Homo sapiens: one gene and its partners. The protein of the gene in region 1 interacts with the protein of each later gene in a pairwise test. Each region holds a gene or a part of one and is shown in the gene's direction. Other genes may lie near its edges.

What was found.
Region 2: the proteins of STK3 (region 1) and ZC3H7A interact in a two-hybrid assay, tested with the Homo sapiens proteins (one large-scale study listed by BioGRID and IntAct).
Region 3: the proteins of STK3 (region 1) and GAD1 interact in binary tests that used the Homo sapiens proteins (3 or more experiments, as listed by UniProt).

The regions. Positions count from the first base shown.
Region 1 is NC_000008.11:98,819,188-98,822,840, reverse strand, and holds part of STK3 (serine/threonine-protein kinase 3), read left to right. Parts: intron 1-3,653. UniProt on the Homo sapiens protein: Stress-activated, pro-apoptotic kinase which, following caspase-cleavage, enters the nucleus and induces chromatin condensation followed by internucleosomal DNA fragmentation.
Region 2 is NC_000016.10:11,762,709-11,766,361, reverse strand, and holds part of ZC3H7A (zinc finger CCCH domain-containing protein 7A), read left to right. Parts: intron 1-676; coding exon 677-873; intron 874-1,208; coding exon 1,209-1,309; intron 1,310-2,702; coding exon 2,703-2,884; intron 2,885-3,614; coding exon 3,615-3,653. UniProt on the Homo sapiens protein: May be a specific regulator of miRNA biogenesis. Binds to microRNAs MIR7-1, MIR16-2 and MIR29A hairpins recognizing the 3'-ATA(A/T)-5' motif in the apical loop.
Region 3 is NC_000002.12:170,823,267-170,826,919, forward strand, and holds part of GAD1 (glutamate decarboxylase 1), read left to right. Parts: intron 1-3,653.

The DNA.
Region 1 (3,653 bases):
GCCAGGCTGGTCTCCAACTCCAGACCTCAGATGATCCACCTGCCTCGGCCACCTAAAGTGCTGGGATTACAGGCATGAACCACCGTGCCTGGCCCCCGTTGTTCTTTATTTATGTTATAGGCTGTGGGTACTCCCAGCTTTACCTTTATTCACATTTTTCCTTTAGAAAAGTTTGTGTTACTTTTTGCCTGAAGAATAATCTATGTTTTATTCTTCCATCAAAGCCTACCTCATCAAGTATGTTTTCTGAGTACTTTCTAGCCTGAGATATTTCACTGAATTCCTAATGTGATATACATTTGATTATATACCATCTTTTTATTCTATTTTATTACAAAATTTTAGATATCCAGAAGATAATGAGGGCCTACTGCGATGGTGCACGCCTTGTAATCTCAGCACTTTGTGGGGCTGAGGTGGGAGGATTGCTTGAGCCCAGCAGTGGGAGGTTTCAGTGAGCTATGATTGTGCCACTGCACTCTATCCTGGATGACAAAGTGAGACCCTGTCTCAAAGAAACAAAAATAAAAATAAAAACAAAACAAAAAGAAAAAAGAACAGAGCCTAATTTAATAGATACTTAGGTATTACCATCCAGTTTAAGAAATATTAATAAAAATATTACCAATACATTTGAAGCCACCATGTGTATTTCTTCTCAATTACACTCCCTTCCCATCCCCCAAAAGGTAATCACTGACATGAATTGGATATTTGTCCTTCCCATACATGCCTTTATATTTTTAGTATGTTACATATATATGTGTGTGTGTATGTGTGTGTGTGTATGTATGTGTGTGTATATATATATGTATGTATGTACACATATCAACACATAATGTTAGGCATGGGTATTAGGCCTGGCCTTGTCACTGACTTTGAAATTTGCTTCTTTGGGCATCTTCTTCTCCTCTGGGAGTTGGAGATTCCAGTGTGTAGCCCAGTTCAAGAATCATGACTCAGAGACCTAGATGATTTTTAAGGCACCTCTCACCCTCATATTCATTGATTTGGTCTCCTTAACAAGGTTTGTGTTAAACATAGGCAATAGATGTGGTCACCCATGTCACCAACTTGAGGTACCAGAGTAGTTTTTAGATTCCTTAGATTTCGTTAACATACTTGTCACTGAGGTCTTCAGAAGTCCTTTTTTTTCTTTTTAACTTTTTTTTTTTTTTTGAGATTGGGTCTTACTCTATCGCCCTGGCTGGAGTGCAGTGGCACAATCATGGCTCACTGCAGCCTTGACCTCCCTGTGCTCAGGTGATCCTCTCACCTCAGCCTCCCTGATTAGCTGGGACCACAAGCACGCACCACCATACCTAATTTTTTTTTTTTTTAATTTGTAGAGATGAGGTCTTGCCATGTTGCCCAAGCTGGCCAAAGTCGTTATTAAAAGGATTTCCCTCTGGGAAGGGAAATTCATTAAATCATAGATCCCCAACCATTTTGGCACCAGGGACCAGTCTCGTGGGAAACAATTTTTGCACAGATGGTTTGGTTGGGGGCGAAATGGTTTCAGGATGAAACTTCCACCTCAGATCATCAGGCAATAGTTAGATTATCATAAGGAGCGTGCAACCTAGATTCCTTGCATGCACAGCACAATAGGGTTCGCACTCCTATGAGAATCTAATGCTACTGATGATCTGACAGGAGCTGGAGCCCAGAGCAAGGGCGGTAATGCTCGCGTATAGCTCACCTCCTGCTGTGTTGCCTGGTTCCTAACAGGCCATGGACCAGTACTGGTCCACTGTATTGTGCTGTAAAGGAGTTGGGGACTCCTTTATTAAATGATCATTAATTAGCATTTTGGTTAGATGGAATTTGTTGGATTTATTTTATTATTTTATTATTTTTTTTGAGGTGGAATCTTGCTCTGTTGCCCAGGCTGGAGTGCAGTGGCACAATCTCGGCTCACTGCGAGCTCCGCCTCCCAGGTTCACGCCATTATCCTGCCTCACCCTCCTGAGTAGCTGGGACTGCAGGCGCCTGCCACCACACCAGGTTAACTTTTTTGTATTTTTAGTAGAGATGGGGTTTTACCGTGTTAGCCAGGATGGTCTCGATCTCATGACCTCGTGATCCACCCGCCTTGGCCTCCCAAAGTGCTGGGATTACAGGCTTGAGTTACCGCGCAGCCGAATTTATTGGATTTTTTATAGGGGAACTGCTAGCTGAGAGAAAAATGACCACATAATAGTCCAGCTTTGATAGGTAGAAAGGTAAATGACCAGAAAACATGGGCTCTTCACCAGGTGGAACCTTCATAGAAGGGAGGTGGGTCTCTATGATAGACAGGTGGGCAGCATGAAAATATATTTAATACTTGTCAAAGAGAGGACAGAATATCACTGCTGGAGTGAGACACTTTACCAGATAGGCTTGTTCCTCAAATAGGTTATAGTGTTAGTAGTTATTTAAAATGTGTAATTCGTTGATTAAGGTATGGTTGGAGGGCAGGTTAGCATTGAACAATGAAAACACTAAAAGGATAGTAAAAGAATAAGCTATTGAAGCATACTTACTCTCAAGACAGGTGAGTTCTTTAATTTAAGCTATAGTTGGATTCTGTGGCAATTTTTTATTATTATTTTTAATAGTGTGAAAGGGTAGTTTGGGGGAAATAAAATTGAAGGTTGAAGTCATATGTTAGGGGTCCTTCACGCAAATGGAAAGCTAGAAAACACTAATTTCATAAGGGCAAATGAGTGTTTGGATGGATTACCCATCAGAAAACAGATTATTATGGAAAGAAAAAGCAAAGGGATCGGGTTGAGAATATAGAGGAGTTAAGCAGAAAGTACTCATGAATTCTTCAGCATGAAGAGCCCACATCAACTTGTAGCATCTGTAGCCCGGATCTCAGGCCAGGAATTAGGAATGGAGAGAGATAGCAGATAACTCTCAGCGCTTATGAATGGAAGTGGGTGAGAGAAAGCAACACACCAGTTAAGTAGATAGTAGGAATATCACAAAGATATTATTGCAGGGAGAAGAGGGGTGGATGTCATTTTATGTGTATATTTCTAATTTATGTTTCCTTGGAATGTTGGAAAGTAAAATTGTGTGTATATCAGAGAGATTGACTAAATAGAGAGCTGGAGTTGTCTTTGAGAAGATGAACTCTAAGAACTCTTAAAAAAACCCCAGCAGACTCAGAGGAAGGCCCTAGGGAAAATTTCCAATTCTAGAGGTAGGCAAGTGGACAAAATATTCAAAGTAGTTAGTCCAAGGGGAAAAGAACCAACCAAACAGGAGCATCTCTGAATTAACAACTTGGTCCCTAAAGCATCTGCTGTCTTCCCTTTGGCTTTTCTTGGTTAATTTAGGGTGGCATTAACTTGATTAGGATTGCTTTAGGCCGTGCTGATGGGAATAGTCAGTTGGCTCTTCCTTCTTGGAGAGAGGGAGTGCGACAATAAAATTTGCAATACTTCCGGTAAACAAACTTCTGTTGCATGTCAACTAGAGAAACTCAGTCTTTAGTTGACTCTAGGAACACTTCAGGCCATCATATATTACTGGCTTTCAACATTTAAAAAAAAAAATTCATTGATACTGAGACTCAGTACAGACCCACACATTTACATAAATGGGAGGTAGAGGTGGGACAATTGCTTGAGCTCAGGAGATTGAGGCTGCAATGAGCC
Region 2 (3,653 bases), on another chromosome or scaffold:
AAGTCCTGGCCTCAAATGATCTGCCTGCCTCGGCCTCCCAAAATGTTGGGATTACAGGTGTGAGCCACCACGCTTGGCCTATGACCAGATTTTAAACAGAAGACTGTCTCAAACCTTAAGTTCTCTCTAAACAGAATCAAAACACTGAGCTAAGGCTTTGAAAAGTGTTTAAGATGCTTTTGAGAGAACTTGGTATTTTCATGTTTGTCAAACAAGTTTGTGTGAATGAGCTTAGAATGTCCCTAAATGATTTTTTTTTTTTTCAGCTGAGGTGTGGTCCATGAGAGAATCAAGGCTCTTCTCACAGTCTGTGATAAAAATAATTAAGGCTTGTGGTACTTCTCTTTTTTAGAGTTGATACGATCCATCCCCAGATAATATGCATATCATTGTTTGAGGCTGTCCATGAATTGTTAGACAAGTTCAAATGATGCCCTAAATGTTATTTATATTCATTGGCTTTAAGGAAACAATTACCATCTTTTTTTGTTTGTTTGTTTATTTTGACACTGGGACTTGCTCTGTTGCCCAGGCTGGAGTGCAGTGGCAAGATCATTGCTCACCGCAGCCTTGAACTCCTGGGCTCAAGGGATCCTCCCACCTCAGCCTCCCAAGTAGCTGGGAGTACAGGCCAATTGCCATGTTTTCAATGTCTGTCCATTCCCTGTCTTTCTAGATGTTGCTGCTGAGGAGGAATGTAGATATTCAGGCCACTGCACGTTTGCTTATTGCCAAGAGGAGATAGATGTGTGGACACTGGAGCGGAAAGGAGCATTCAGCCGGGAGGCTTTCTTTGGCGGCAATGGAAAGATTAACCTTACTGTGTTCAAACTTCTCCAGGAGCATCTTGGGGAATTTATATTCCTTTGTGAGGTGTGTTCTCCAAAACTTATTTTCCACTGTAAAGTTGAATTTGCAAGCCCAGTGGTATTGTCCTGCCATGTGATAAAACATTCACTTGGTAAATGAATAAATATTCATTTATTTATATGATAAATAATATCATATTTATGAATAAAATATTCCTCTGGTCCTCCCATGTGATAAAACATTCATTCAGTAAATGTTGGCTATTACTGTTACCAAAAAGAATATTAAAACTTCATATTGAATATTAATTTTGTAATGATATTGAAACTAGGACAATATTCTGGGTACAAAATTTATATTTTGTATTTTTTTTGATAATCTTTCTCTCTCTATTCCAGAAATGTTTTGATCATAAGCCTAGAATGATAAGTAAAAGAAATAAAGATAATTCTACTGCTTGTTCTCACCCGGTTACAAAGCATGAGTTTGAAGACAATAAGTATGTTGATAGTTTCTAATTTCTGTAATGACAAAATAGATTCTTTTTCTAGATCTGAATAAAAACTAGTAGTAATGTCTGTCCAGGCATTGCCCTTTCATCGTTATGTTGTTATTTTGAAGAACAATGACAAAATTTTAAAATGTCTTTTAGTAGATTTGGCTGGAAAGTGAATAATTAACTAAATATATTATGTAAAACAGAAAAGCATTATTGATGTATAGTTTCTCATGACATGGATTTAGGTATTTTATGGCTTAAAATATAAGTACCCCCCCCAATTAATTCAACAATTGCATGTAGTGATTTGGTTTTTTTGTTTGTTTTTTTTGAGACAGAGTCTCGCTCTGTCACCCAGGCTGAAGTGCAGTGGCATGATCTTGGCTCACTGCAAGTTCTGCCTCCCAGATTCAAGTGAATCTCCTGCCTCAGCCTCTCGAGTAGCTGGGATTACAGACACCCACCACTAGGCCTGGCTAATTTTTTGTATTTTTTAATTTTTTTGAGACGAAGTCTTTTTCTGTTTCCCAGGCTGGAGTGCAGTGGCGCGATCTCAGCTCACTGCAACCTCCGCCTCCCGAGTTCAAGCGATTCTCCTGCCTCAGCCTCTCCAGTAGCTAGGATTACAGGCACGTGCCACCACACCCGTCTAATTTTTGCATTTTTAGTAGAGACAGGGTTTTACCATGTTGGCTGGGCTGGTCTTGAACTCCTGACCTCAAGTGATCCACCCGCCTTGGCCTCCCAAAGTGCTGGGATTATAGGAGTGAGCCATCACGCCTGGACAATTTTTTGTATTTTTAGTAGCAACAGGGTTTCAACATGTTGGCCAGGCTGGTTTCGAACTCTTGACCTCAGGTGATCCACCCGTCTTGGCCTCGCAAAGTGCTGAGATTACAGGTGTGAGCCACTGTGCCCAGCCCCCATGATTTTTTTTCCGATAAAAATTTAAAATGTAGGGCTGGGCTCCATGGCTCACGCCTATAATCCTAGCACTTTGGGAGGCCGAGGCAGGCGGATCACGAGGTCAGGAGATTGAGACCATCCTGGCTAACACGGTGAAACCCCGTCTCTATTAAAAATTAGCTGGGCGTGGTGGTGGGCGCCTGTAGTCCCAACTACTTAGGAGGCTGAGGCAGGAGAATGGTGTGAACCCGGAAGGCGGAGCTTGCAGTGAGCCGAGATCGCGCCACTGCACTCCAGCCTGGGCGATAGAGTGAGACTCCATCTCAAAAAAAAAAAAGAGAAAAAAAAATTTTAAATGTATTGTCAGTGTAGAACTTTATATATATATATATATATATATATATATATATATATATATATATATATATATATATATTTGAAAAATCTATGGCAGAACAATATTAAAATGTCACTGTTTTCATCTTAGGTGCCTTGTCCACATTTTGCGAGAGACAACAGTAAAATACTCCAAAATACGTTCTTTTCATGGTCAGTGTCAGCTTGATTTATGTCGACATGAAGTTCGGTATGGCTGTTTAAGGGAAGATGAGTGCTTTTATGCCCATAGTCTTGTGGAACTGAAAGTCTGGATAATGCAAAATGAAACAGGTAGGTTTGAGTGCGACTGAGAAGTATGTCTCCTCAAGAGCAGACAGGGTTTAATGAAACAGTAATTTGGGCCTGGCGTGGTGGCTCATGCCTGTAATCCCACTACTTTGGGAGGCTGAGGCAGATGGATCACTTGAGGTCAGGAGTTCAAGACCAGTCTGGCCAGTACGGCAAAATCCCCATCTCTACAAAAAATACAAAAATTAATCGGGCGTGGTGGTGGGCGCCTGTAATACCAGCTACTTGGGAGGCTGAGGCATGAGAATTGCTTAAACCTGGGAGGCAGAGGTTGCAGTGGGCCAGGATCACAACACTACGCTCCAGTCTGGGTGATAACATGAGACTGTCTCAAAAAAAAAAAAAACAAAAAGGAATTTGGAGACCTCCCCTTCTCCATCAACCAGATGTGGTGACGCTATTGATTTTGTCCTGAGCTTCAAACTTTTGATTTTTAGAGTTGCCTATTTTGAGTGTGTTCTCATGTCATTAATTACTGATACAAGTTGATACATGCAATTGTTGGGAGGAAAGATTCCTCAGAAGGCACAAAGAGCTGTATTTGTGTATATTCCATTTCAAAAAAGAGAAACGTGGTATTCATCCTTGCTGATGGATTAGGAGGTATGAGAATAGATTGGAAGCTGAAGGTTCTCCACGTCTGACTGCACCCAGATTGGTGGGCTGTTGTTCTTATAGATATAATTTAAAGGAAGGCTTGTACATTCCCCAGGTATCTCACATGATGCTATTGCTCAAGAGTCTAAACGAT
Region 3 (3,653 bases), on another chromosome or scaffold:
GCCCGCCGCCTGGGTGCTCTCTGCACCTGATCTTCCCAGCCTCCCTGGGTCCCGGGGCGAGGGCGGTGGCAGTTTGCAGTCAGAGCAGAGTGGCCGCTTTGGGGAACTACTCCCTTCCCTGCTTGGCCGCGCCGCGCCCTCCCTGCATTTCTGGGGCTCTGTCCTCTAGACCCTGGGACTCGGCGTTTAGGGAGGAACAGGCGCTCCATTCCTAGACCCAGCCATTTTCCACCGAAAGCCCAGCCCTGCCGCCGGGCGGCCTGGGAGTTTGGCCTTCTCCCCAGCGCAGGACGCCCGTGGGGCAAGGCCAGGGCTGCATCCCTGTGCTGGGGCAGCCGGCGGCCGCGGATCTTTGTTCTATAAATAGCCCCGTCCCACTCCCACCCCCACCTCCACCCCCACCCTGCCGCCATTCTGGGCTTAATGGCCCGTTTCGCGCCAGGTCCCTTCGGCGGCCGCAGCGCTCGGCTTCTGCAGCCGTCATTGTCATGCAGCCAGCCGGGCAGGCAGAACTGAGCGAGCCCTGGGCAGCCGAGGACAGGGTAGGGGCAGGCTCTGGGCGACGGCTCCTTACCAGCGGCGCCTGGCCTGCTGAGGGTGGGGGGCAGCCCTCATTCACCCCCATCCTGCCCCCTGCTGTCCCCTGCTCCTCTGGCTGCAGGCGCTCCACTTCCGCGGGAATAAAAGGTCTAAGTGCTTCTTATGGGGACATACCCGACGAGTTCAGAAAGGCTAAAGAGGCGGGAAAGAGTGGGGCTTCGCTGGGTCCGGAAATAGGGAAGCCGGAGTTGGCCTCCACTCCCCCTCCCCCACTGTCAGCCGAAGCTAGGAGGGAGAGCTCCTGGGGGCTACAGTCCTCAGAGAGTTTCCTCCCTGTGTCTGCTCCCCACAACCCATGGTAGTCTGTTGAGGAGAAATTGCCTTGGGCTAAAATGCCCCGCTTTTGGGGCCACAGGTTAGGAGGCTTCCCATTAGGTTTGATTGTGAAAGAAAACAAAACACCAAGATTTATTTTCCACACCTTGAGACAACTTTGGCTTTCCATTTTAATCTAGTGGAGGCAGAGTGCAGTCTTTTGTGTTGGCCCTGGGTCCACAGCTCCCTGCCTGCCTACACACACACACACACACACACACACACACACACACACACACCCCTCCCTTCATCCCTGGAGGGATGGACCTGGAGGGTCCCTTCTTGACTTGACACCATCCAGGTTGGTTTACCCTTTCACATTAAGAGAGCAGAGGAACTCATGGTCCTCTTCCCACTTCCAAACCCACTGCCCTGGATGACTCTCAGAAGCACCCTCAGTGCCTTGCCAAAATTCAACCCCCACCCACTCTCCCCCTGCCCTTCCCCAAAATCCACAGAATGAAGCTGCAAGGAAGGCCCTGGGCCCCACTAGTGGTAGCCCTGAAGGCAGAATTAGCTCTGGAGGCAGAATCCCCCAGGGAGAGTAATCAGCTAGAAGAAACCCATGGTCTTGCCAAGAGCTGGAGAGTGCTGCAGGCATGGTGGCATGACCTAAATACGATGAGTTGCAGGGATCCCTAAGTTCTGGCTCCAGGCTCTGCTAACTTCCCAGGGTGTCCTTGGGCTTCCATCACTTATCTCTTGCTGCCAACTACAGCCCCTGAGCTGTTTTATTTAGCCTACACTCGTGTGTGTGTGTGTGTGTGTGTATGTATGTGTGTGTAATTTTGTATCAAGTGCCAAACCTTAAAAATAGAGAGATTTCAAGTGCTCTCTTTTTCTGGTTTCTCTTGAAAAAACTTGGGGGTGGGCAATGGGGAGGGAAACATGGCAGGTGCTGTTAGCCCAAGAAAATCAGAAAAAGAAGTCATGGTGGCTCACATCTGTAATCCCAACACTTTGGGAGGCCAAGGTGGTAGGATCATTTGAGGCCAGGAGTTTGAGACTAGCCTGAGCAGCATAGGGAGACCCCATCTCTACAAAAACTTTCAAAAAATTAGCCAGGTGTGGTGGCCACATAGCTGCAGTCCTAGCTACTCAGGAGGATGAGGCAGGAGGATCGCTTGAGCCCAGGAGTTTGAAATTACAATGAGCTATGATGGCGCCACTACACTCCAGTCTGGACAACAGCAATACAGTATGACCCTGTCTCAAAAACAAACAAACAAATGAAAAAGAGCCCCTCCGTCTATGCATATGCAATTCCATGCCATAGCTTGGTGAACAGAGAATGTGCTGGGCTTCAGCTCCCACGTGCCCTGTTGGCCATAGGTGTTTATGCCATACACAGCTCAAAGCCCCACTTGGCAACAACTGGCTGGAGCCAGGTGCTTTCTAGCTACACATACCTGTGCGCACATGCACGCACACATACACATACACACTCTCTCACTGGGCCCCATAAGCCTTTGAGTTTGGCAGCAGGGGTGAGGAACCTGCAGCAGGAGCTCCCCTCAGCTCAGAGGTGGAGTCATGATTTTTCTCCCCTTGCGGCTGGCCAGTGTGCTAGCACCCAACCAAACACAACTGCAGCTTTGCCTCTCCTCTGCTTTCCTCTTTGCCTCTAAGAATGTAGAGCTCTGTGACCAGTTACCCACAGGCTTAAACTAGGTCCTCGAAGCTGGGGTGTAGAGCAAGAGGGAGTACACTCGGCTTCATTCTCTGGGACCCCTTCTTACAGGACCCCTTGCTAGCCAGGGAAATTGTCAAGGCACTGACCTCCATGTCATCCACCACCTCTTCATCCTTGGAGAAGCAGTTCCTTCCAGGGCCTCTCAGAGCCAAGGGAGGCCTGGTTCACCTACCTTTCTGAGGATCCCAGTATTTTAGAGAACAAACACCTTCCTAAACAAAGTGAAAGACATGTGACAATATATATTATATGTTTATATTAGCAAATTAATTGTTTTAACATAAATTATAATGCAGTGTAAGTGTGCTATTCATAAAATAATTACAGGATTTAGAGAGGATTCTGATTCCTAGTACATTACTGGAAGTGCAGCCCAAGGAATGGGATGCAGGTTTAAAGCCGTGTCGTAGGGCCGGGCGCAGTGGCTCGCACCTGTAATCCCAGCACTTTGGGAGGCCGAGACAGGTGGATCACCTGAGGTCAGGAGTTTGAGACCAGCCTGACCAACATGGCGAAACCCCCATCTCTACTAAAAATACAAAAATTAGCCAGACGTGGTGGTAGGCACCTGTAATCCCAACTACTTGGGAGGCTGAGGCAAGAGAATCACTTGAACTTGGGAGCTGGAGGTTGTGGTGAGCCGAGATCATGCCACTGCACTCCAGCCTGGGTGACAGAGCAAGACTCCGTCTCAAAAAAAAAAAAAAAAAGCTGTGGCATAACGATCGTTTCTCAGCCTCATGAGCGCATCTCTGGGAGAGCCTGTGTCAAAACCTCAAGCCGAGTTTCTGCTTCCTGCAGCTGCCCAGAGGGAAGGGGCTTCAAGGTGGGGAGACTCAGGGAGTGAGTCAGAAGCCTAAGCAGGCGTCGGGGACAACAGAGTGGAGGTTCAGCTGGGCAGGACCTCACTACATGAGGCCACATGGGTTTGGTCTTTCAAGTCTGGCAAATTCCACAGCTCAATGTTCTGGGATGAGAGGAGCAGTCTCAGAGTTCAGGTGCCATCTGATCCTGCATCCCTCTGGCAAATGAGTGCTGGCTCCTG